Linked DNA regions of Homo sapiens. The protein of the gene in region 1 interacts with the protein of each later gene in a biochemical or structural test. Each region holds a gene or a part of one and is shown on either strand. Other genes may lie near its edges.

Region 1 (7,602 bases):
TCATATATACATTCATATACATTCATATATACATTCATATATACATTCATATATACATATTCATATATATATTCATATATATTCATATATATTCATATATATATTCATATATATATTCATGTATATATTCATATATATACACATTCATATATATACATTCATATATATAATATATATATACACATATTGATATATATATACACATATTGATATATATATACACATATTGATATATATATATATACACATATATATATATACACATATTGTGTATATATATATATACACACACACACATATCCGGCTAGTGGTGTTTTTGTTGTTTTTTTCCTGAAGTTCTAAAATGGAGAGTAAAGGAAACTCTTAAGTGCAGCCTCATCTACTGGTCTAACCCAGACGACTTTTTTTTTTTTTTTTTTTTTTTTTTTGCAAAAAACCAACACAGGTGGTTGCTCCATATGCCTTTTTCTCCTCCCTAGGCAGGCTAGTACTCACTGCTAGTCTAGTCCTAATATTGTTTTGAACCCTAGGAGGCTTAGTCTTCAGAATCATTTTTACTCTGCCCTAAAGTGGAAGACACCCCATTCATTCTACAAATATAATACAGCAGGCATTGTTCCAGCAGCTAAGGCTTGAATAATGAACAAACTAGACAAAAGTCCTTGCCCTTATTAATATTACATTATAATGGAAGGAGGCAGATAGTAAACACAACACACAAGTATGATAAATGTTATGTTAGTTAATGATAGGTGCCATGGACAAAATCAAGCAGAAAGGGGGATAAGGAGTATGGGAGTCCCTCTTGGGAAGGGTGTCAGGGAAGGCCTCCCTGAGGAGGTGACATCAGGCAAAGACAAGAAAGGAGTGAGGGAATGAGCTATAAGGTATATGAGGGAAGAGCATTCCAGGTAGTGGAAAAAGCAAAGGCTTGGAGCTGAAAGTGTGCTTGGGGCATCCCAGGAACAGTAAGGAAGGCAACTGGTGAGAGCCCACAGAGTGAGAGGTAGAGGAGGAGGTGAAGGCAGATAGATCAGGGGGGGTTTGGCAGTAGGCAAGATTGTCTAAGTCCTCATAGTGAAATGGGAAAGTCATGGAGGAGTTCTAGAGGGCCACTGAGAATGCTCTATTAGCACAGACTGCGGGAAGACAAGAACGGAAGAAGGGAGGACCAGTTAGGGAACTTCCTTAAACCAGGTGGGAAATAAGATGGGTTAGACTAGGCTAGTAGCTAAAGAGGTGTGACAGTATTTGGAATGTGAGTATATTCTGAAGGTGGAGCCAATAGGATTTTCCGTCCAATTGTATCTTGGGTGTGAGAAAGGAGGCAAGGACTCCAAGGTTCTTGACATAAGTGGAAGAATGGAGTTGTCCTTTCCTGAGATGGGGGAGGGCTGCAGATGGAGCATGTTTTAGGGCAAAAAGGGGGAGCTGTTATTCCCTTTGTGGTTACCATGGCTTCCCAAGGTCGCTGGGGCTCTCAGAAGGCCATGATTCCAAATTAGATCAGTGGTCTGGACTAGGCCATGACTGAAATACCTTCTTGGGATGACAGCTCCAAGGAATATGTGCCCCAAGGGCTTTGTCCTCCTCCTGAGCTATCCTGTTCCAAGCCAGACTTGCACTGAGATATTGCACCAAATGGTTTTAAGTCTGTTTTTTTGTGTATATAATCAATAGGCAAACACAAACACACACACACGCACACACACACACACACACACCCCTAAAACCTTGAAAACAACTTAAAAACCAGGGTTTCCTATTAGAGAACTCACTGTCCTCCAAATATCAAAATTCAATTCAACTCTACATTTGCGGGGCTGTGACGTGAGCAGGAAGACACTGGTTCCTAGATAATGCCAGGCTAAGGCTGGTATAGAAACCACATCAGGGCCAATCTGAAACGTGGCTGATTGAAGAATTTACGTAATCAGGAACTCATTGGATGAATGATCCAAAAGGAAGGGCTGCATTTAAAACAGTAGTCACTATAGCACCTGCCGCAGCCATACGTAAAATGGAATATTGCAATAAAAATACGGAAAGGTGACGGAAAGCAAAAAAGCCATATTAGTGGGAGGAAAAAACAGAAACTGATTTGTAAGATTACTTCAAAAGGCTAAGAAGAGACTGACAAGAAATTTTAAAAATCGTGTCCTTAAACGGGAGCAAGAATCTATACAAGGCAACAAGGCGAGAGCGCAGAGCTGTTTATTTATTTATTTATTTATTTTTCTACCCAGCTCACAGGGCCAGCGGGTAGATTAGAAAGAAAACAACCAATTGCTGCCAGGCGCGGTGGCTCACACGTGTAATCCCAGCACTTTGGGAGGCCGAGGCGGGCGGATCACGAGGTCAGGAGATCGAGACCATCCTGACTAACATGGTAAAACTCCGTCTACTAAAAAATAGAAAAAATTAGCCGGGCGTGGTGGCGGGCGCCTGTAGTTCCAGCTACTCAGGAGGCTGCGGCAGGAGAATGGCGTGAATCCAGGAGGCGGAGCTTGCAGTGAGCCGAGATCGCGCCACTGCACTCTAGCCTAGGCGACAGAGCAAGACTCCGTCTCAAAAAAAAAAAAAAAAAAAAAAAAAGAAACCAATTGCTAAAGTAGAGTAGCTAAGGAATCAGAACTTGTTTCAAAGTAAGCGAAGTAGTGGCCAGACTAGGTGACTCAAGGCATGACTCAAACCCGACTCTGGAGGCTGTCTGTCAGCTCCCGGAGGCGGGGGGCGCGGTGTCTAACACGTTTTAGGAAAGTACCAGGCTTGTGGAGGGCGACAGGAAACCTCCCCGGGAGATCGGCCTGGGGCTCCTCCTGCCCTAGAGCCTGACCTCTCACTCTCCGTACCGGCAGCGACTTCCAACCTCCTGGCTTCCCCTTCCTCCGTTCGAGGCTCCCCACCCCTCGTCTTCCATCCAGCGTCACAGGGCGTGTGCGTGTTGTGTGCGAGACGCGGGTCTCCTCCCCCGCCGCCCTCCGCCCCGTGCTCCCAGCCACGCGCCTTCCCGCCCCGCCTCCGCGGCAAGCCGCTCCCTTCCCACCCCGCCCGCGCCCGCCGCCCGCCGCCCGCCTCCCGGGCACGCGCTGCACGAACGGCGCCCGGAGCTGGTCTAGGCAAACACCTGTCCTGCCTTGGCTCCGCGAGATTTGGGGCGAAAGCTTAGGCAACAGGGGCACGTTCTCGCGAGGTTTAGGAAATTTCCCACGGCCGTGTTGTGTCTGAGCCGAGTAGTGGAAGGCGGTGGGAAGGAGGTGTAGCGTGAGACTGGACTGCCCGCATTGGGTACATGCGCAGTGCCGCTCGCGCGGGCCGCGCCAATCCTGCAGCGCCTTCAACAGGTTTCGGGCGGCGAATTCCAGTTCTCCGGGTTTTGGGGCTCCCTGCGGGAGGCAGTGCTGGATCTGGGAATCTCTAGGAAAGGAAAGAGCAAAGGAGGGGAAAGATGGGGGGCTGCAGGTAGGAGGAGGGGGCGGGATTCGGGCCCTTCACCCTGCTGTTCCATGCCCGGTGGGGCCAGGTTTGCCCGGGGGCTTCCGGGATCAGGCCGCCTGAAGCGCGATTCGGGCAGCCGGCAGCGTCCTCGGCTGTGCCAGGCCCTCGGGTGGCCCGGTTCCCTGTGCAGTAGTGGTCTCAACACACACCTGGGCTCACACACGGTGGTGGCTGCGATGGGGTCTTAGAGAGGCCATGCAGCACGCGAGCGGCAAGAGCTTTGATCGGGTCCTCTGGGCAGACTCGGAGGTGGGAGAATGTGGCTCTCAATTCCAAGGCAGTTTTCCCTTCTGGAGAGAACTACTCCGCGCTCTGGCGTGTGTCTGCGAGGTGGCCATTAGGGGTGTCTTTGCTAGAGGCCTTGGCTTGACCTCATTTCACACCCAAGGAGAACGCTAAGGCGAGAGAGCTCAACTGCAAAAGTTTTCCGCTTGAGGAGCTCTGGAAGGGCCTCCTCATTAGCATGGGGGGGTGTAATGAATGAAGACAGTCCCCGACGTGTCACTTGCCCGAACCCCAGACATCTCTGGCGCTCCTGCACCAAACGCCGAGATTAGCATAAAGGAGGCGCCCAGGGAACGTTTGAATGAATGAAAATAGCTGGGAACCCAGAGTGAGCGGGAAGCCGCTTGGAAAACACCCATTGAGGAGGTGTTTCATCTAGGCCTGTGAAACGCAGCCCATTTTCCCAGGACCCCTCCTCCCTTCTCCTCGGCCCCGCCTCCTGACCCCTCCATTCCTCGTCCCCGTAGTAATCCCCTCCGGTTTTCCTCAGTCTCCACGTACGTCCCTCAAAGCGCGTCCTAAAACCCGGATAACCGGAGCGCTCCCCATGGACCACACGGAGGGCTCGCCCGCGGAGGAGCCGCCTGCGCATGCTCCATCGCCTGGGTAGGTTTCCAGGGAAGGCAGCGAGCAGGATCCCCTACTCTGCGGGCGGCGCGAGGCGTCTGGCTCTTCGCGGCGGCGGCGAGGGGAAAGGGAGCGCGGGGGCTGGGTGGAATCGAGGAGTGAGGAAAAAGGGAAGGGGCGGGGGAGAGGGACCAGGGAAGGCGTCGGGGGGAATCTCGCGAGGGTTGGAGTTTTGGCGAGAGTTTGTGGAAGATGGCGCCTGTTGTGACAGGGTAAGTCTGAGGGAATCGGAGCGCCGGGAACCGGGAAAGTTGCGGGCGTCTGGCAGCTCACGGCGGGCAGCGGGTTCGGGGGCCGCGGCGCGCTTGGCGTTCGGGGGCCCGCGGGGGCGGCGTCGCGTGCGCCGAGCGCGGCGGCGGCGGCGTGTGGCCGTGCGCTGCCGCTCTGCGCTGCCGTGGCTCAGGCTCCAGCGCGTGAGGGCGGGCGGCGGCGGCGGCGGCGAGGCCGGCGGGTGCGGGCGTGAGTGCGGCAGGGCGCGCGGGGCCCTCGGGCGCCGTGCCTCCCGCGCGCCTCCAGCGGGCTCTGCCTGGGGGCCCCGTGCATCTTTGTTCCTCGCGGCCGTTGTCGCCGCTTCGCCCCGCTAGTGCCCCCGGCCCCGGGCGCTTTGTCTTTCACCGCTACCCGCTGCGACTCTCTACCCCCGGCCCTTTGTTTCGCCGCCTTGGGCGCTTTGTCCGACCCGTGGCGTCCCGCATCCCCTCTCCATCTCCTCCCCTCCGCTGTCCTTCCTCCCGTGCCCCTTTGTTGTGCCACACTCTTGTCGTTAGCCCAGTGACCTGCCACAGCCCGGGCACCAGATTTCTGCCTTAATTGTTCTTCCATTGTCTTTCTCCTGTGGGTCCCCTCTCACCTTTCTGTATGGTCCTGGATCACCCCCCGAGGCTTTGTCTCCCCCATCCACGGGCTTATTCTCTCGGCACCCCCTTCCTCTCCCGTCATCGGTTGATTTATCCACAACCCACGGTGTACGTCTGCTGAACTGTCTCAGCCCCGGGGACTCCATCTGCTGCTTCTAAGTGCACACAAGACTCTACGGTTTGTTGTTTTGTGGGTCTGAAAGATGCATGGGATACTTAGTTTTCTCCTCCGCACCTCTTTTTCTCGGGATTTCTTGTACCCTCCCGCCCCCCTATCGCCACCCCTTTCTCTCGGGATTAAAGCGTCTCCAATTTTCATCGCCGTCTTTTTAGTGCCGTGGGTTGTTTTGCTTGGAAACAGTAGCCTTGGAAAAAGATCTGGTCTCTTGGTGGTTCTTGCGCCCCCCGGCCCCCGCCCCCCTCCTGGTTCCTGACGGCGTAGGCCAAGGGCAGCTGTCTGTCGAAGCTTTGCAATCTAGGCTGCCTGAGGATGATTGGAGGGTATCGTAGGACGGTTAGAAGGAGGCTCAAGATGTATATATGTGTTTTTCTGTTAGTGTTTGAGAATAGTTTCAGATAGCCACAATGGATATTCATTTGGCGTGTGAGTAGGAGTTGAGTGAATTTCCATGTTAAAAACTTGTGAGTGTTGGGGCGGAGAATTTCAGCATTTTCTAGAAATCTGGATTTAGAATTTATCAGTAACTTCTGCCTCATAAGGAAAAGGAGAGGCATTCCGCTTGGGAATTTTATATAAATGTTTTATTTTTTCTTAATCATTAGATAGTTTACAGTTATGTGCTTTTTGCTGCCCTGTAGATGCGTGACAACCCTTCTGTCCCATCATTGGGGTTGAAATGAGGACAGCACCGAAGAGTGCAGTTTCTGGTCGATGAATACTGCTTCTAAGATCTTTGTGGAAGATATTAATCAAATGCAGTTAAAAAGTATACGTATAATATGTATATTATATATATATATACACACACACACGTAATAGCCTGTAGTGAGATTATTTTAAAGACACTTCCTAGTGTTAAAGAACCCTTGAAGTGTTTCGAGTTCTTATTGTTTTGGTAATGCTAAAAGCTTGGGGTTGTGTGAATGGGGGTGGGGGGTGTGGTGTGATGTATTCTAATGACTTGAGTTATTCTGGGTGCTAGGAATAAGAGTTATTATATTTACCAGGATTACTATGCTGAAGGTATTCTTCAAGAGTTTGTTTTTTTTCTACTGGTTGATCTCTACTTTTAGAAGGTATGTTACCCATAAAATCATTTGGAGTGTCATTTCATTTACAAACTGAAGTTCTACAATAGTGAAGTGTTGTTGATAGGGGACATACGAGATCTACTCTAACGAGTATTGGAGCATTGGAAAATACTTTTTTTTCTGGCTGTGATTAGAATTAGTAGTTTGAGTTTTAATTAATGGAAAACCATGTTTTCATGATTGATACATAAGTTTTTTTGTGAAAATCTGCAGTCTGGGTCGCTTGAGTGGGTTTTACCAATAATCTTATGTCTCCCTTACTTGTTCTTGTACATAATCATTGTTTTGAAGGTAAAATCTTGAGCTCACTGGTTCTCTGACTGGGAGCAAAGTGTAAATACTGTGTAGTAATGGAAGGTATTTTGCTCTGACTTGTACCTGTAAGAATGATTACACAGACATGATAAAAGCGCTTTTACCATTTGAGTTGCGTTTTTCTTTCTAAATCGTGTAATACTTTTACTTACATGATTGGTGAAATAAAACTGCTTTTAATTAAATTATAACAGCAGCATATTTCGAAATCTGGATGCGTTGTGGCTGGAGAACTTTCATTCTGAGTATTAACTGTTAAAGCTTTAAATTTTATTATCCATGCATATTGCTGATGGATCTGTGAGTATATTTTCAGAAAACAGGAGACTTGCAATATTTTCAAATCTGTACTAATACACACTTGTAGGCATTAGATTTTAAGCAGTTAGGTTTGTTAAAAAGTTATCTGTTGTCCTATACCAACAGATTTCTATCAATGTTTTTTTTAAGTGGGTAAGATCAAAATTGGTTTGGTTGACAGGCCATTCTTGCCAGATGTAATTCATTAAATAACCTTTGGCACCCTTGATGGGTAAGGCATTAGGAAAAAATTGTTTCGTTTGAAAGTTATTATACATCTCATTCTTCTGTTCATTTTTAGAAATAAGACCCAGGACTTGGCTTTAAAGCATTATTTTGCATTTTGCTTCCTCCTAATACTAAATTTCATGTTATCTCAACTAGGGGCAGTATTTTCTCATGGATTGACTAAAAGTTGTTATTTTTGGCATCTGGCTTTGTGATTATT
Region 2 (7,503 bases), on another chromosome or scaffold:
CCGTCACAGCAACGCCATCTCTCCTTCGTGCAGGCAGCGTTCTTGAAGACAAGCACCAAGGCATGGTCCATTACCATCTGCTGGGCCGCGACCTCAGCTGGGCGAAGTTGAGCGCACATTTTTGACGTGACCCACTTTCTGGGGTAACTCTGTCTCTCTCTCTCTCTCTCCCTGTCTTTCTCTCCTCCCCATCCTCCTGAAGTCATGTTCAGTGCTGCCCCTGTCCTCTGCCATCTCCATGGCAACGTTCACGTGGATTTCATAGAACAGAAGGTGTTTCTGCTGGAAGGGACTTTGAAGATTGGCTCCTCCTGCCCACTTATTTCATGGAGAGGAGAGCAGGCCCAGAGAGGGAACACCAGATGCCTGGGGACACACAGCAAGCCAGGGACCCCACCAGGCCTCTGGCCTTCTGACACCACTCCCACCCAAGAGCACAGACAGCTGAGATCCATAGCACTGACTTCTCAGGAGGTGTTCTGGAGCAGCTGAGAGAGGGATGGGCCTCTTTGGGGCCTTGTCACAGTCCCGGAGGCCAGCCCTTCCCACCCTCTCTCCTCCCCCGTGTGCATCTGTGGGACAGCCTGGCCACAGCAGCCTCTTCCCTCCCCTCAGGTGTTTGGCACTCTGGAGCAAGCCAAGAAGTACATGCTGGACAACTACTCAGCAGTCAGGTCACCATGGAGGACGTCTTCCTGAGCTTCGCATGCCCTGTGCCCCTGGTCCAAAGCGAAGACCAACGAGAGCAAGCAGAGCAGGTGGGCTCCTCATCGTGCTCGCTGCCTCCTTCCCTGCCTCCCTCTCGGCTTTCCTCTCAGTCTCCCTCCCTGCCTCCCTCTCAGCTTTTCTCTCGGCCTCCCTCCCTGCCTCCTCCCTCAGAGCCTGTCCTGCTGTAATAAGGACAGACCAGTGCCAGGTTGGCCCAGGTGTGCATGGCCTTCCCTGGGTTTCCAGGGCGTACAGAGGCAGCTCTCGACCTAGCTAGCTCAGCACAGGGCTGTCCCCCTAACTGCAGTGCACGGAGCAGAGTGGGGCCCACTGGAGAACTTAAGAGGCCCGCTGGAGAACCCAGGTGCGTTTCCTTAGAAAGGGATGCCCAAGTCCCACCTGAGTAGCCTGTGGTCTTATTGAGACCTGGCTGTGGAAGCAGCCTCAGAACATCTTGCATGTCCTTTCCAAGGGCGGTGGCCATGGGGTGACTACAGTACTAACCATGACCCGACCAGGTGCCAACTCTGTGGTTGGTCCCCTGCAGGCATTGCGTCATTTGATCACATCACCCTCAGGCCCGGCCTTAAGGGGTCTGTCCTGGTCATCCCCTTGCTCATGGGCAAGAAGTCTGCAGGGCAGAGGGAAATGCTCACCCAAAGCTTGCGCTCTTCCTTCTCTAGAATCCCCTGCCCAGATGGTTTGTCCATCCAGTGCACTCCCTCCCAGGGCAGGCCATGCCGCCCAACGCACCCTGAGATGCGAGATGCAGCAAAGCAGTGGCTCTGCAGAACTTCGGGTAGAGTTTGGATGGGTGCGTGGAGGTTTCCACACATGTGTGCAGATCCCTTGGAAAGCAGGATAGAGCCAGAAACAGAGAGGAGGGTGCCCGTAGGCCGCTGGGGGCTGGCTCCCATGGTCACATGCAAGAGTGAAGCTTCATGGAGACCATGATTCTAAACTCACACCTGGCCTCACAGGTGGTAATGTCACTGTTCTTCTGAAGGAAGGAGGAAATAAATATTGACAAGTTTGCTAGCCTAAGTCGGGATGTCACAATATTTAAATATTTGGATGTGTGGGCTTTCATCCTCTTCCCTGGCTCCTGCAAATTTAGGGCTGCATGTGATCCTATATCCACCCATGAAGTGGACAGCGCCCCACCTCCCACATGGGTAGACTGGCTTAGAGGCAGCCAGTAACTTCCCACATCAACAGACAGGGGAGCCAGGGTTGCACTGGGGCAGAGGTTCTCGCAGTGGGGTCCCAGCAGTAGCAGCACCATCAGGAAACTTGTTAGAAATGTAGGTTCTTGGGCCCCACCCAAAACTTACTGAATCAGAAATGCCTGGGGCAGGGCCAGCAATCCATGTTGCAAGAAGCCCTACAGCAGGTACTCTGGCGCAGCTCCAGCATGAGAACCACTGAGCAGAGGCCCCATGGGCGCCAGACCATCACACTGTCCAGATGCAGATGGATGTGGCCACATGCCTTTGTCATGTACACTCACCTCTCTTCTGAGACGGGCTCCATCCCGTGGCCTTTCTCTCTCTGTGGAGTTCACTCTGCCCCTTGCCACAGGCCCCTCAGCTCCTCTCTGGGAAGTGCAGATGCTGGTCTCTGCCCCTTCTCAGCCAGGACTCAGGAAAGGGTCATGCACAGGCCTTGCCTATGGTTCCTGCACCCCTTGCCCAGAACAACGGCGTTGCACACCCATGGTCGCCAACCCACCCTCCTCAGTCCTCGTTTCAGGTGACTGCTCCCTGTGATGAAAGCCACTCCCTGGGCTCCCATATCCAGCTCTCATTCCTCCCATGCCCCTCTCTGCCTCCACTGAAGGCCCATCTTCTTCTCTGAATGTGGGATTTCTCAGGCTCCCAAGCTACTTCACTTTCCCTTCTCTCCCCTGCCCCTCACTACCCATAACGTTTTCAACCGACACCTCATTCCACCAGGAATTTCCCTGAGCTCCTAACAGTTTAGACTTTTCCAACAAGGTCTCACCTTCCTGAAGCCCAGTGGGAAACGGGCCCACACCCTGGAGGAGCCACTTATCACCCCAGGGCAGCCCTGGAGGCTCCCACTGCCAGTGCAGGGTGTGGGGCGAGAGCAGGCATGGCTGCAGTCAAGACAACTCCTGCTCCCTGAAAAAGAAATTTGCCTGTCCATGTTGAAAGGAGAGTGATCAGGACACAAAGCACAGGATAGAGCTAAACAACAACCTAGGGACCAAGGATGCTGTTCTAGATTCTAGAGGCAGCTGGTGTGGCTAATGTGCTCATGGCTGGCTCTAGTTGATTAATCCCTTCAAGATGCTATGGAAGCTAACCCTGAAAGTGCACCTCTGCCCTAGGGGGAGACAGGTAACAGTGACAAAGTAGGAAACAGTAACCCAGGAGGACAAAAGTGAGATAAGGGGATAATAAATCTGGGGGCTGAGAACATGGGACATCTGGGGAGCAGGCCCCAAACTCGCTCAGCCTGTCCTCTCTTCACCCTCCTTCACCCGCTTCCTGATTCCGGGACAGGGAATATTCCCAACTTCCAGACCCTCTCTGGGGCCACGGACTCTTCTGTACCCTGTGCTGTGATCACCTGTTTACTCTGTCTCTTGCCCCAGGCCGGCTGAAGCCTGCACGCCAGGGCTCCTGTCTGTGTGCCCAGGGCAGGCCCAGTACTTGAAGGAGTTCTATGGGGACCCGGAAGGATGGAAGGGTGCAGACTGAGGGAAGCGTGAGGGAGGGGTGGGCAGCCTTGGCCCAGGCCCCTGCCTTCCCCAGGAAAAGCCCCCTCTGTCCTCCACCAGACAGTCAGGAGGCTGCGAGTCTTCCCCTTGACAGCCTGTGCCGTAAAAGGGGTGCGGTGTGGCTGACTCCTGAAGGACAGCTCAGATGGGCACTGCCCAAGACAAGAGTGAGCAGATACGACACTTCCCGCGGCGAGCAGCTCCAGGTAGCAGCCGAGGAGGCCAGACAGGGGGCAGCATCTGGCCAAAGTGATGGGGAGGGCTTGCCCCGGGGCTGGAGCACTGAGGCGTCCAGGGTGCGCCACGTTTCGCGGGAAGAAGGGGTCAGCGTTCCGCGGGGGAGACTTCCCAGCGTCAGCTCCGACCTCCTCTTTCTCTACCACGATCCCGGCCAGCATCCCCGCCCAGCAGCGGCTCAGCCACAAACCCAAGGGTCTCCACCTGAAGCAGGCGGCGGAAGGGAAGGCCGTGCAAGCTGGGGGTGAGGGTCGCGGGCCCAGGAGCGACCCCGGGACCCGGGCAGGGCACGGCCTCGTCTTAGAAGCGCCACGTCGAGGCTGTCCCAGGCTGGATCACGGCCGCGACTGCGAGGGACGCCAAGGAGTCCTCTTTCCCCTGGCCGCAGGCGTGCGCCTTCGCAGCCCATCTGGCACCGCAGATGCCGGTCGCCGGGGTCAGCGGCGAAGCCCGAACCCATGCGGCCGGGAGGGGACGCCCACAAACCCCTGCCCGCCGGCCGGGAAGCGCTCCTACGGGACCCCAGCCCCGTTGGGGAGGCGGGGCGGCCACGCGGGTTCCACCAATCAGCGGCCAATGTTCGAATTCGCGTCCTGGCGCGGCCAATGGCGGGTCCCGGAGCAGGCGGGGAGGGCGTGGAGGGCGGTAAATGAGGCGAGCACAGGGCGGGACATGGGCGGGGCCGGCGGCGGCCCCCCCGGGCAGGCCAATGGGAGGGCCGGGTGCGTTTGAAAACTGGGGTGGGCGGCGGGGCGGGGTCTGCGCCTGCGCGAGGGCTACGCGCGCTCCGGCCGGGGCGCGGGCGCGCTCTCAGGCGGGCTCCGGCGGCAGCGACGCGAGCGCGGCGATGGGGAGCGGCGGCGGTGAGTGCGGGGCGATGTCCGCTGGTTTCTGCCCCACACCCCTTCTGCCTGCCCTGCGGGGCGGACGGTGGGTCCCGCGGGAGGGGAGGCCCTGGCGGCCTGAAGAGGGCTGGCTCGAGCTCTTTAACCCGGGGCGGATGTCGCGTCCCGCGCAGGGAGCCCCGGCGGCCGGGCGCGCGGTTTAAATGCCCGGCGGGCGCCCGAGCCCCTCGGAGCCTTCCCCCGCGGCGACGTTTTCCGGCCCTTTCCTGGGGCAACGATCGGGTCCCGGGGCAGCGATCCGGCGATCGGGTCCCGGGGCGGCGATCGGGTCTCGGGGAGCCAAACACCAGCGCCTCCTGGTCGGGGAAAGGGCTGCGGAGCGCGTGGGGGCGAAGCGATCCCGCAGCCCGGCCGGGCCCTGACCGAGCCTCAGTCCAGCGGGGCCGTGGACCTAGCTCTGTGGAAAGCAGCGTTCGGCCCCGCGCGCGTTGAGGCACAGGAAACACGAACTGTGGTTTCAGCTATTATCATAGTATCTGTCCTGGAGCCGGAGAATGAGGAATATTTTATGGAGAGGTCTATAGAATCTTTGAGAATTCGTCGCCCTGGAATACGTTTGGCTTTTGCAGCTGATTTAATTGCTAACAGGAAGACCCCGGTCAAGAGAGGGGAGCCGGGAGCAATCGCTAGGAAGTCCTAGCAAGGCGGGGAGGGATTTGGGCCCACAGAGGGGAGTGGCGCTTCCTTTCAGGACTGGAAGGAAGGATGGATAGAAAGGTAGATTTGTAGATGGGGAGGCAGGATCCTGAGGTTCCTGTCTGAGGGCTTCTGTTTCCCTGTGAAATAAGGGCTAAGGTCATCTGCTTAGAGTGAGGAAGGGGTTGCTGGAGTAGGAGTTGGAAAATCCGGCTGTGGGAAGAGGAGAGAGCACATCTGAGAAGCATGTCCGGGCTGCCTGCCTGGTGGGTGGAATGCCCGTCTCACCTTTAATGATTGCATCTGTACACAAACCTACAGGTCTAGGTTTGTGTTGGGACCTGAGCAACAACCTTACTGCGTAGCTGTCAACTCCGCATTCTACAATAGAGGGCACACTGAGACTCTGCAGAGCTGAGACTTGGACGCACACTGCCCCGGCCTCCAAGTCTGTGGCTTCTCTCCAGGGCCGACCCTTCTAATTTGGACTTGAAAACCAGACTCTTCAAGCCCACAGATCTTTATTGAACATTATGCACCTTGGTCACGTGTGCAAAAAGCAAAGCTATCCAGCAAAGGCCCCAGGAGTTTTCCTGAGAGTGAAATAGAAGGAAAACCGTCCTCAGCTTCGGCAGCTTTTTCCCCTTCCTGCCTGTCATGTGGGCTCTGGATCAGAAAGTTTCCCAATAGCCAAGTTACATGACATGCGCTATTTGCCATAAATATTTGTTGAATATTTGAAAATGAATGATCTCTTCTGTAATTTGTGCAATGCCACTCCTTTACATAATCTTTGTTTGGGACAAGAAGCATAGTTCCATCTTTTGTGGCACAGGGAATAGTAACCATTAGATCATCTTCAGATGTAACTTTTATCCTTTTTTTTTCCCTTCAAGGGTGTGTATATAGAATAATTTTTCATCTTATCAAGGCTTCTGTCTTTTTTTCCTTCAGTGGTCCACTGTAGGTGTGCCAAGTGTTTCTGTTATCCTACAAAGCGAAGAATAAGGAGGAGGCCCCGAAACCTGACCATCTTGAGTCTCCCCGAAGATGTGCTCTTTCACATCCTGAAATGGCTTTCTGTAGAGGACATCCTGGCCGTCCGAGCTGTAAGTCCCTGCATGAAAACACTATGAGCCCTAGCATTGTTGATTATACCATCAGGCCTTGTGTTCTTAACTGTCAGAACAAAACTTTGGCTAAAAAAGAGGTTGGGGCAGAGGCCAGGCACGGTGGCTCATGCCTTAATCCTAGCACTTTGGGAGGCCGAAGGGGGGTGGATCACCTGAGGTCAGGAGTTCCAGACCAGCCTGGCCAACTTGGCAAAACCCCCATCTCTACTAAAAATACAAAAATTAGCCGGGCGTGGTGTCTCACGCCTGTAATCCCAGCTACTAGGGAGGCTGAGGCGGGAAAATTGCTTGAACCTGGGAGGCAGAGCTTGCAGTGAGCCGAGATCACATCATTGCACTCCAGCCTGGGCGACAGAGCGAGACTCTGTCTCAAAAAAAAAAAAAAAAAAAGGAGGGCAAAAAGGAAACAAGGATGATATCATTACCAGATGCTTTCTTTAAGACATTCTGATTACAGAAATTCCTACTGCTGTCTCCTAGCACACTAAAATTGCCTCTGTTCATTGCAGTGTCAACAAAGAAAGTACCTTTTTTTTTTTTGAGACAGAGTCTCGCTCTGCCACCCAGGCTGGAGTGCAGTAGCGCAATCTCGGCTCACTGCAAGTTCCGCCTCCCAGGTTCATGCCATTCTCCTACCTCAGCCTTCCGAGTAGCTGGGACTACAGGCACCCGCCACCACGCCCGGCTAATTTATTGTATTTTTAGTAGAGTTGGGGTTTCACTGTGTTAGCCAGGATGGTCTCTATCTCTTGACCTCGTGATCCGCCCGCCTCGGCCTCCCAAAGTGCTGGGATTACAGGCATGAGCCACTGCACCCGGCTGAAAGTACCCTTTTATGGCAGTGAAATTTGCATCCCTTAAAAAATAGGATAGTGTTTAAAAGAATAAGAATACATTCTTGAGGACAAATTCCATGTAACATTTAACACTGAAATGGACTCTAGGAGTTATTTTCTAGATATTGGAACCATAGGCTTACTTTGAGTGACTTAACCTAGAGTATATAGTGGATTCATGGGGAAATGCCAGCAAGAACCCATTTTCTGACTCCCAAAGCCACCTCCATTGCAGGTGCGACACACTTTATGGACCCCAGGGGGTGCTGAATTTCCAATGGCAGTGGAAACTTTGGTGCTTA
Region 3 (6,996 bases), on another chromosome or scaffold:
CACACATTTTACAAAATATATCCCACAATAGGGATAAAAGGCCTTGAGTTCCTCCAAACAAGGTCCACTTAGCTCCACAGCTGGATCAGCAGGAACATTTCTTGTACATGCAGAAAGATAAACAAGAAACCAGAAATAGACATTACCTGGATTTTGGGGGGTGAGGGGAGGAAGTGTGGCAACTGGGAATTCCAGGGTCAGGGGTGGAGATTTTTCTCTGTATACCTTTCACATGCTTTGAACCCATAAAAATGTACTGTCTATTTAAACAACTAAATAGATTTGTTTAAAAATGAAAAAAAAAAACCTTTAAAATAAAAGAATTTCAGGGACACATGATCTGCTTAGTTTTAAAATAACCTGCTTTTATCAGTAGCATCTGCTTTTACTCTGCAATAGGTAAGATACTCCTTTGAATGCAGTCGTGAGCAAACTGCCAGCTAAGCCGTTTTTAATACAGTAATGTTCCTCCAGACTGCCGCTTTCCAAGGCAGCTCGAATCCTCCGCCCCCTCCTCCCTCTGTGCATTCTGAGATCGGCTCTGCTGATTCCCACATAAAGTGGGTCCTGGCCGCCATTTTAGAAAGTCATTCACACAAGCCAGACCGCAGCACCGTCCACTAAGAACCCTTCCAAAGCTGCCTGGGACGATTTCCTCTTTCTTCTCTCTGCCCCCTCATCTTGCAGAGGGGCCAAACTCCCAGCCATAAGCATGCAATGTCTCTGGAATCTGCATAATGAGAAATGACACGTCTAGGCACATAACACTGAGGAGCGAGCGAATGCTGCAATGCACGTGCTTGTACATCGGTGCATACGAATTTCCCAGGCAGAGACCTACAGAGAAAGTCCACAGGGGATTAAAGTGAGCACATCTAAGTGGTTTTTCCACTCCAATAATGTACACCTAAATGATTTTTCCATCAAAACACTGACGATACTCGAGGAGAAGCCAGGAGGTGGGGGGCGGGTAAGGGGTGGAGCAGCGCCAGGAAGAGAAAGTTCCCATCTGCTTCCCAATCCAGCCCGTGGTCTCCCCTTCATCCTAGGGCACAGAGGTGAATTTTTGCTCCCTGCCTCCCCCCGCCCCCGCCTGGTTTCTCAGGCACGACGTAGTAAACACCGGGAGAGTCCCTGGAAGCGCGCACCTCCCCCCGGCCTGCCGAGGACAGCTCAAGCAGGTTATGAATGGCCCCACGATTCCCGGCTCCTTTTCACACGCGGACACGCGCAGACGCGCGCTCCAGCGGCGAGGGTTTAATGCCCCAGTAACAGCAACCACCAACACAATCAATGATCCTCCATTTAAAAGACAGGAGCTCCGCCGCCGCTGCTTCCATTTCCTTATCCAAGCGGCTCAAAGCGAGCGACGCAATCTATTTTTCCCATGGTGACTCATTAATGAGGACGCTCCATAATTTCCTTCACTCACTACATAGTAAGGGAAATTAAAAGCCAAACTTAAAACCTTCCAGGGTCTTAAATATCGGAATAAACTGTCATTTTCGAGGACAACCACAGATTTGCTATGGTCCCTCTGAATCTGCACCAAGTCCAAGCCAATCGTCATTTTAATAAGTGTTTTATGCGGAGGCCTATCTGTTACGGTACACAGGCATTTCACAAAGAAAACGCACTACACGCTACTCAATAAGATGTATCAACGACAACATTTATTCTTATAATTCACAAAAATATTCAGGGGAGGTTTTTTTTTTAAGCTACATCTTCTCATCGTAAAAGGTTTGGAATGTTTTACCGTTTGATTCGGGAATTCAGGGGTGGGGGGCACCAGGGTCTTAGGGCGGCCTGGGAGTGCGACCCGAGGCTACGGGCGCCGGGGCTAGCAACCTCCTGTCAGACGCGGTCTCCTCCGCCGGGGACGAGGAAGCCCAAACGGGCGCACCAACTTATTTCACACCACTCTCCACCCAGCCCCGCAAAAACGAGAAACGTTTGCCATTCCCAGTGAGTTTCAAGGCTGCAAATCCTCCGGAGAGGTCCTAGATGGTCTCTCCGGGTCCGCGACGCGACCACAGTACCTACTGCGACTTCTGTTTTCGCACCGCCTTTCCCTTCGCACGGAACCCTCCCGAAGTCAGACATTGCCGAGCGCCCGCAGAGCAGCTTGGAGTGGCGGCGCCGGACCCGGCTGTCGGGCGGGCTCGGGTCCCGGCTGCTCCGGGCCGGGCACTGCGCGCAAGGACGCGACCCCGCCGCCCAGCGCATCTCCCACCGACTCCCGGGCTGACGCGAGGGCAGCCCCGGGGCGCCGGCTGCGTGGAGGCCGAGCCTCGGTCACCTCCCTCGTCACGGACGCGGCCGCCGGGGCCCCGCGGGCTCTTCGAAGGCGGCGCGGCTTGGCCGCCCGCACCGCCGACACCCGAGGCCCAACGCCGCGACGCGGGCCGAGCGGCTGACGAGGTCCCACAGCGCCCGTGGGTCCGGGCCGGAGTCCTCCTCACCAGCTCCGCGCTCCGGGAGGGGCCGGCAACGGGCCGGGGCGGGAAGCGGCGCCCGAGGAGCGAGCGCGGCCGCGGGCCTCGTGTCACTCACCGTTTGAAATGCTCGATGATCTTCTCTTCCCGCACGTTCTCGGGTAAGTTGCCCACCCAGAGATGCCTGGTTTCCCGGACCATGCTGGGCGGCGTGCCGGCGACCGCCGCTGCTGGCTCCCCCTCGCCGGCTTCGTACGAGACCGTCAGCGCCGGGAGGCGGGTGCCGGGGCGGCGGCGGCGGCGGCTGCGGCGGTGGCGTCGGCAGCGGCGGCGGCTCCTCCGGCTCCCCCCCGTGCAGAGACCATCCCTCTCCCCCAGGTTCTGACTCTCGGGCCTCGCAGCTCAGCTCTGCCGCCACCACACACCCGAAGCCGACCCTCGCGCTCCGGCAGCGCATGCGCCCGGGCAGGGGCGGGCGGGGGAGCGGGAGGAGGGGCGAGCGGGACACGGGCGGCAGCGACTACGACGGAGCTGGCGCTGTGGCAGCCGGACGCTTCCCACTGGCGCGCGCGGCCCGACTCCCGCCGCCGCACTGCCTCCCCCTCGCCGCGGGCGCGCGCGCGTCCTCCCGCCTGCCAAGGCGGAGAAGCTGAGTTCCTCCCAGCCGGCGCGCAGGCGCGCGGACCGGGCGACGAAGTGAGGGACTACAGGCGGGGAAGGAACGCTCGCGCGCTCGGCCCCGGTGCGCAGGCGCGCAGCTGCTAGTGGAGTCCCGCTGCTTGGCGGGCTCTCGGTCGGGTTCCCGCGCCGGGCAAGGGGCGGCTGAGGAAGCAGGAGCGGTCTTTAGCCCCTCCAGCGGCAACCCCAGGCCCCGGCCTGGTGGAAGATATGAAGAGAAATGCAATTGGTTTCCACAGGGCTACGGGTCAAAGCGGCTGCCAAGGCCTGTCCCCTAGAAGTCAGGACCCCTTCGTCCTCCGCTCACCTGGCGGCCAGCTCCTGGCGTTTCCGGACACTTAGATTCCTGCCTGCTTGGGAAAGCGATCAGAAAAAGGTTGCCCTTCTCACCGCTCTGCTGAACAGCGACGGCTTCAGAAACGCATCCCATCCAAGAGTCACTGGCTTGTAACATGAAGCAACTTTTTTTTTTTTAATACGGGGTCTCGCTCTGTTGCCCAGGCTGCTGGAGTGCAGTGGCACGGTCTCGGCTCACTGCAATCTCCGCCTCCCAGACTCAAGCGATTCTCCTGCCTCAGCCTCCCAAGTAGCTGGGATTACAAGCACCCGCAACCACACCTGGCTAATTTTTGTATTTTTATTAGAGACAGGGTTTCACCATGTAGGCCAGGCTGGTCTTGAACTCCTGACCTCAGGTGATCCGCCCGCCTCGGCCTCCTAAAGTACTGGGAGTACAGGCGGGAGTCACTGCACCTGGCCTAAGCAACTTTTTTATATAGAATCTTGCGAAACCGTTTGCAAGATACCCTTGCTGATCGCTGTGGTATAGAAGGAATAAAACGGAAATGAGACAGGAATCCAATATTGTTCCCCTCAGACCATAATTTAATATTTAAACAGAGAAAGGAATTAGACCTCTGGCCTTTCCAGGCCTAAGAGCTTTTGAAACCTACAGTTGAACTTTCTTTTTTTTTTTTTTTCCTTTGAGACGGAGTTTTGCTTTTGTTGCCCAGGCTGGAGTGCAATGGTGTGTTCTCGGCTTACTGCAACCTCTGTCTCCTGGGTTCAAGCGATTCTCCTGCTTCAGCCTCCTGAGTAGCTGGGATTACAGGCATGCGCCACCATGCCCGGCTAATTTTTGTATTTTTAGTAGAGACAGTTTCTCTGTGTTGGTCAAGCTGGCCTCGAACTCACAACCTCAGGTAATCCACCCGCCTCAAGCCTCCCAAAGTGCTGGGATTACAGGCTTGAGCCACCACGCCCAGCCTCTTTTTTTTTTTTTTTCCTGAGACCAAGTTTCACTCTTGTTAGCCAAGCTGGGGCACAATGGCGCTGTCTCAGCTCACTGCAACCTCCGCCTCCCAGGTTCAAGCGATTCTCCTGCGTCAGCCTTCCGAGTAGCTGGAATTACAGGCGCGCACCACCACACCAGGCTAGTTTTTTGTATTCTTAGTAAAGACGGGGTTTCACCATGTTGGCCAGGCTGGTCTTGAACTCCTGACCTCAGGTGATCTGCCCACCTTGGCCTCCCAAAGTGCTGGGATTACAGGCGTGAGCCACCATGCCCGGCCAGTTGAACTTTTATATAAAGGCCAATTTACAGAAATTCAAGGAAAACCCATAAAATTAAGGTAACTATATCGAGAGAAAAATAAAATTATTTATAATAAAAATACACAGAAATACCAGAGGTGTGCTGCTTCAGGTGCAAGCCAGATTTTTTTTTTTTTTTTTTTTTTTTTTTTGGAGACGCAGTCTCACTCTGTCACCAGGCTGGAGTGAAGTGGTACCATCTCTGCTTACTGCATCCTCCGTCTCCCGGGTTCAAGCAATTCTCCTGCCTCAGCCTCCCAAGTAGCTGGGACTACAGGCGCAAACCACCACGCCCAGGTAATTTTTTTACGTTTAGTAGAGGCGGGGTTTCACCATGCTATCCAGGATGGTTTCGATCTCTTGACCTGGTGATCTGCCCACCTCAGCCTTCCAAAGTGCTGGTATTACAGGCATGAACCACCAGCCCAGCCAATTTTAAATACTTGGCCTCATCGATTATCTCCTTAAATACAAACTAACTTACAAACGACACTATTTGAATTCGAAAATATTGTCACCAAAACCAATGGCACTAATATCTCAGGTCACCTATGCATAACTAAATTGTTTCTTTGTAGTCTCAGCTACTGGAGAGGCTAAGGCAGAAGCATCATCTGAGTCCAGGAGTTCCAAGCTGTAGTGCACTATGATTGTGCCTTGAAAAGCCCCAGCACTCCAGCCTCAGCAACATAGGAGAAACCCCTCTCTTAAAAAAAGAAAAAAAAAAGTAAAATTGGCTATTTACATCTGGCCATTTCTCTGTCACAATTATCACATAAGGAAAGTCAAGCTAACACCCTACTAACGAAACTCATGAACTATTCAGTACTGTGAACGTGGCTGCAGTTAGTCAACTGTTGAACTGATATGCATTTTTCTATGAAGCATGAATTTGAATACAAGCACCCAAGTTTGAAGCAAATTTTAAAATCTGATGTAAAATCTGATAGACTGAATTAGCTGAAACCTCTTGGGAAAGACCAGTGTCACCATGAAGAACAGTGTCACCTCAATTGTATTAAAAGGTGCAACTGACAAGAGGATTCAGAAAAGTGTCTCGCAATTAGAGAAATAAAAGGCATGTCTCGCCTTGAATGGAGGCTTCTGTTAAAATCATGATTTTAAAAAAAAAAAAAAAAGAGCCGGGTGCGGTGGCTCACGCCTATAATCCCAGCACTTTGGGAGGCTGAGATGGACGGATCACCTAAGGCCAGGGGATCAAGACCAGCCTGGCCAACGTGGTGAAACCTGGCCTCTACTAAAAATACAAAAATTAGCCTGGCGTGGTGGTGCTCACCTGTAATCCCAGCTACTCGAGAGGCTGAGGCAGGAGAATCACTTGAACCCGGGAGGCAGAGGTTACAGTGAGCCGAGATCGTGCCACTGCACTCCAGCCTGAGCGACAGAGTGAGACTCAGTCTCAAAAAAAAAAAAAAAAAAAAAAAACCATTTTCACCATTATAGCCAGGTCCTGTAGTCAAATCAGGATATAGTGATTGCATGTCAAGTATGAAGTTTCTTGCTTTTTTTTTTTTTTGGTTGACTGTTTCTATTGCAAAAGCTCTTAATAACAAAACTGATAAGTACATGCCCTTTGCTCAGCCCCAAATCAAGTTTTTGATTTTCTCAGTGCTTTTCATTTTTGCTGACAATGCATCAAAAAACACCAGAAAAGCTTTTCTCCATTTGTATTCCTGTTACAAAGCTTTACAGGGGCAGAACTTCTTTAAAGCATGTATCTTTGTTATGTTTTCAATAGAAAGGCAACCCACTCTGTTATTCTCTGATGTTTTTTTATTTAACAATAATTGATGCTCACTGAAAAAGATCAAAAAGTAGGTTGTGATTTATCTATGATAAACGGATGGTGAAGTGAATTTCCTCATTTGATTACTAAAGATAATTCAGAAAGCTGACATTAAAGCAGAGCCATTTGCAAAGTGGAATTAAAATAGATTTGTTTTTAATCAGGTTTTATTTTCACACTGTGAGGAGCTGCTGTATTTAGCATGCTAGACATGCTCAAAGAGTTCAGTCATGCGTAATGAAAGCTCAGATGGAAAAAGCGTCTGAGCCTCCAACTCAGGCTTTGAATGCTAACCCAGCCAGTAGAGTAGTAAAATAATATCTCCATTTAAACAGGACAGGATAGTTATCAGATTTTAACAAGAATTTGGTTACAAGTCAGGTCCCAAGCTATTAAAATTAAGCTGTTTCAGGAGAAAACATGCACTTAAAATATAAGCATTTTGGCCGGGCCTGGTGGCTCACGCCTGTAATCCCAGCA

What was found. The genes of interacting proteins can lie anywhere in the genome.
Region 2: the proteins of RBPJ (region 1) and CCNF form a complex in vitro, tested with the Homo sapiens proteins (one study listed by BioGRID).
Region 3: the proteins of RBPJ (region 1) and SPEN form a complex in vitro, tested with the Homo sapiens proteins (2 studies listed by BioGRID and IntAct).

What each region holds. Positions count from the first base shown.
Region 1 is NC_000004.12:26,316,427-26,324,028, forward strand, and holds the start of RBPJ (recombining binding protein suppressor of hairless), read left to right. Parts: upstream 1-4,587; 5' UTR 4,588-4,602; coding exon 4,603-4,622; intron 4,623-4,801; exon of another isoform or gene 4,802-5,445; intron 5,446-5,739; exon of another isoform or gene 5,740-6,462; coding exon of another isoform or gene 6,463-6,524; intron 6,525-7,602. UniProt on the Homo sapiens protein: Transcriptional regulator that plays a central role in Notch signaling, a signaling pathway involved in cell-cell communication that regulates a broad spectrum of cell-fate determinations.
Region 2 is NC_000016.10:2,424,944-2,432,446, forward strand, and holds the start of CCNF (cyclin-F), read left to right. Parts: upstream 1-4,503; 5' UTR 4,504-4,538; coding exon 4,539-4,554; intron 4,555-6,186; coding exon 6,187-6,341; intron 6,342-7,503. UniProt on the Homo sapiens protein: Substrate recognition component of a SCF (SKP1-CUL1-F-box protein) E3 ubiquitin-protein ligase complex which mediates the ubiquitination and subsequent proteasomal degradation of target proteins.
Region 3 is NC_000001.11:15,843,711-15,850,706, reverse strand, and holds the start of SPEN (msx2-interacting protein), read right to left. Parts: upstream 3,001-6,996; 5' UTR 2,640-3,000; coding exon 2,557-2,639; intron 1-2,556. UniProt on the Homo sapiens protein: May serve as a nuclear matrix platform that organizes and integrates transcriptional responses. In osteoblasts, supports transcription activation: synergizes with RUNX2 to enhance FGFR2-mediated activation of the osteocalcin FGF-responsive element (OCFRE).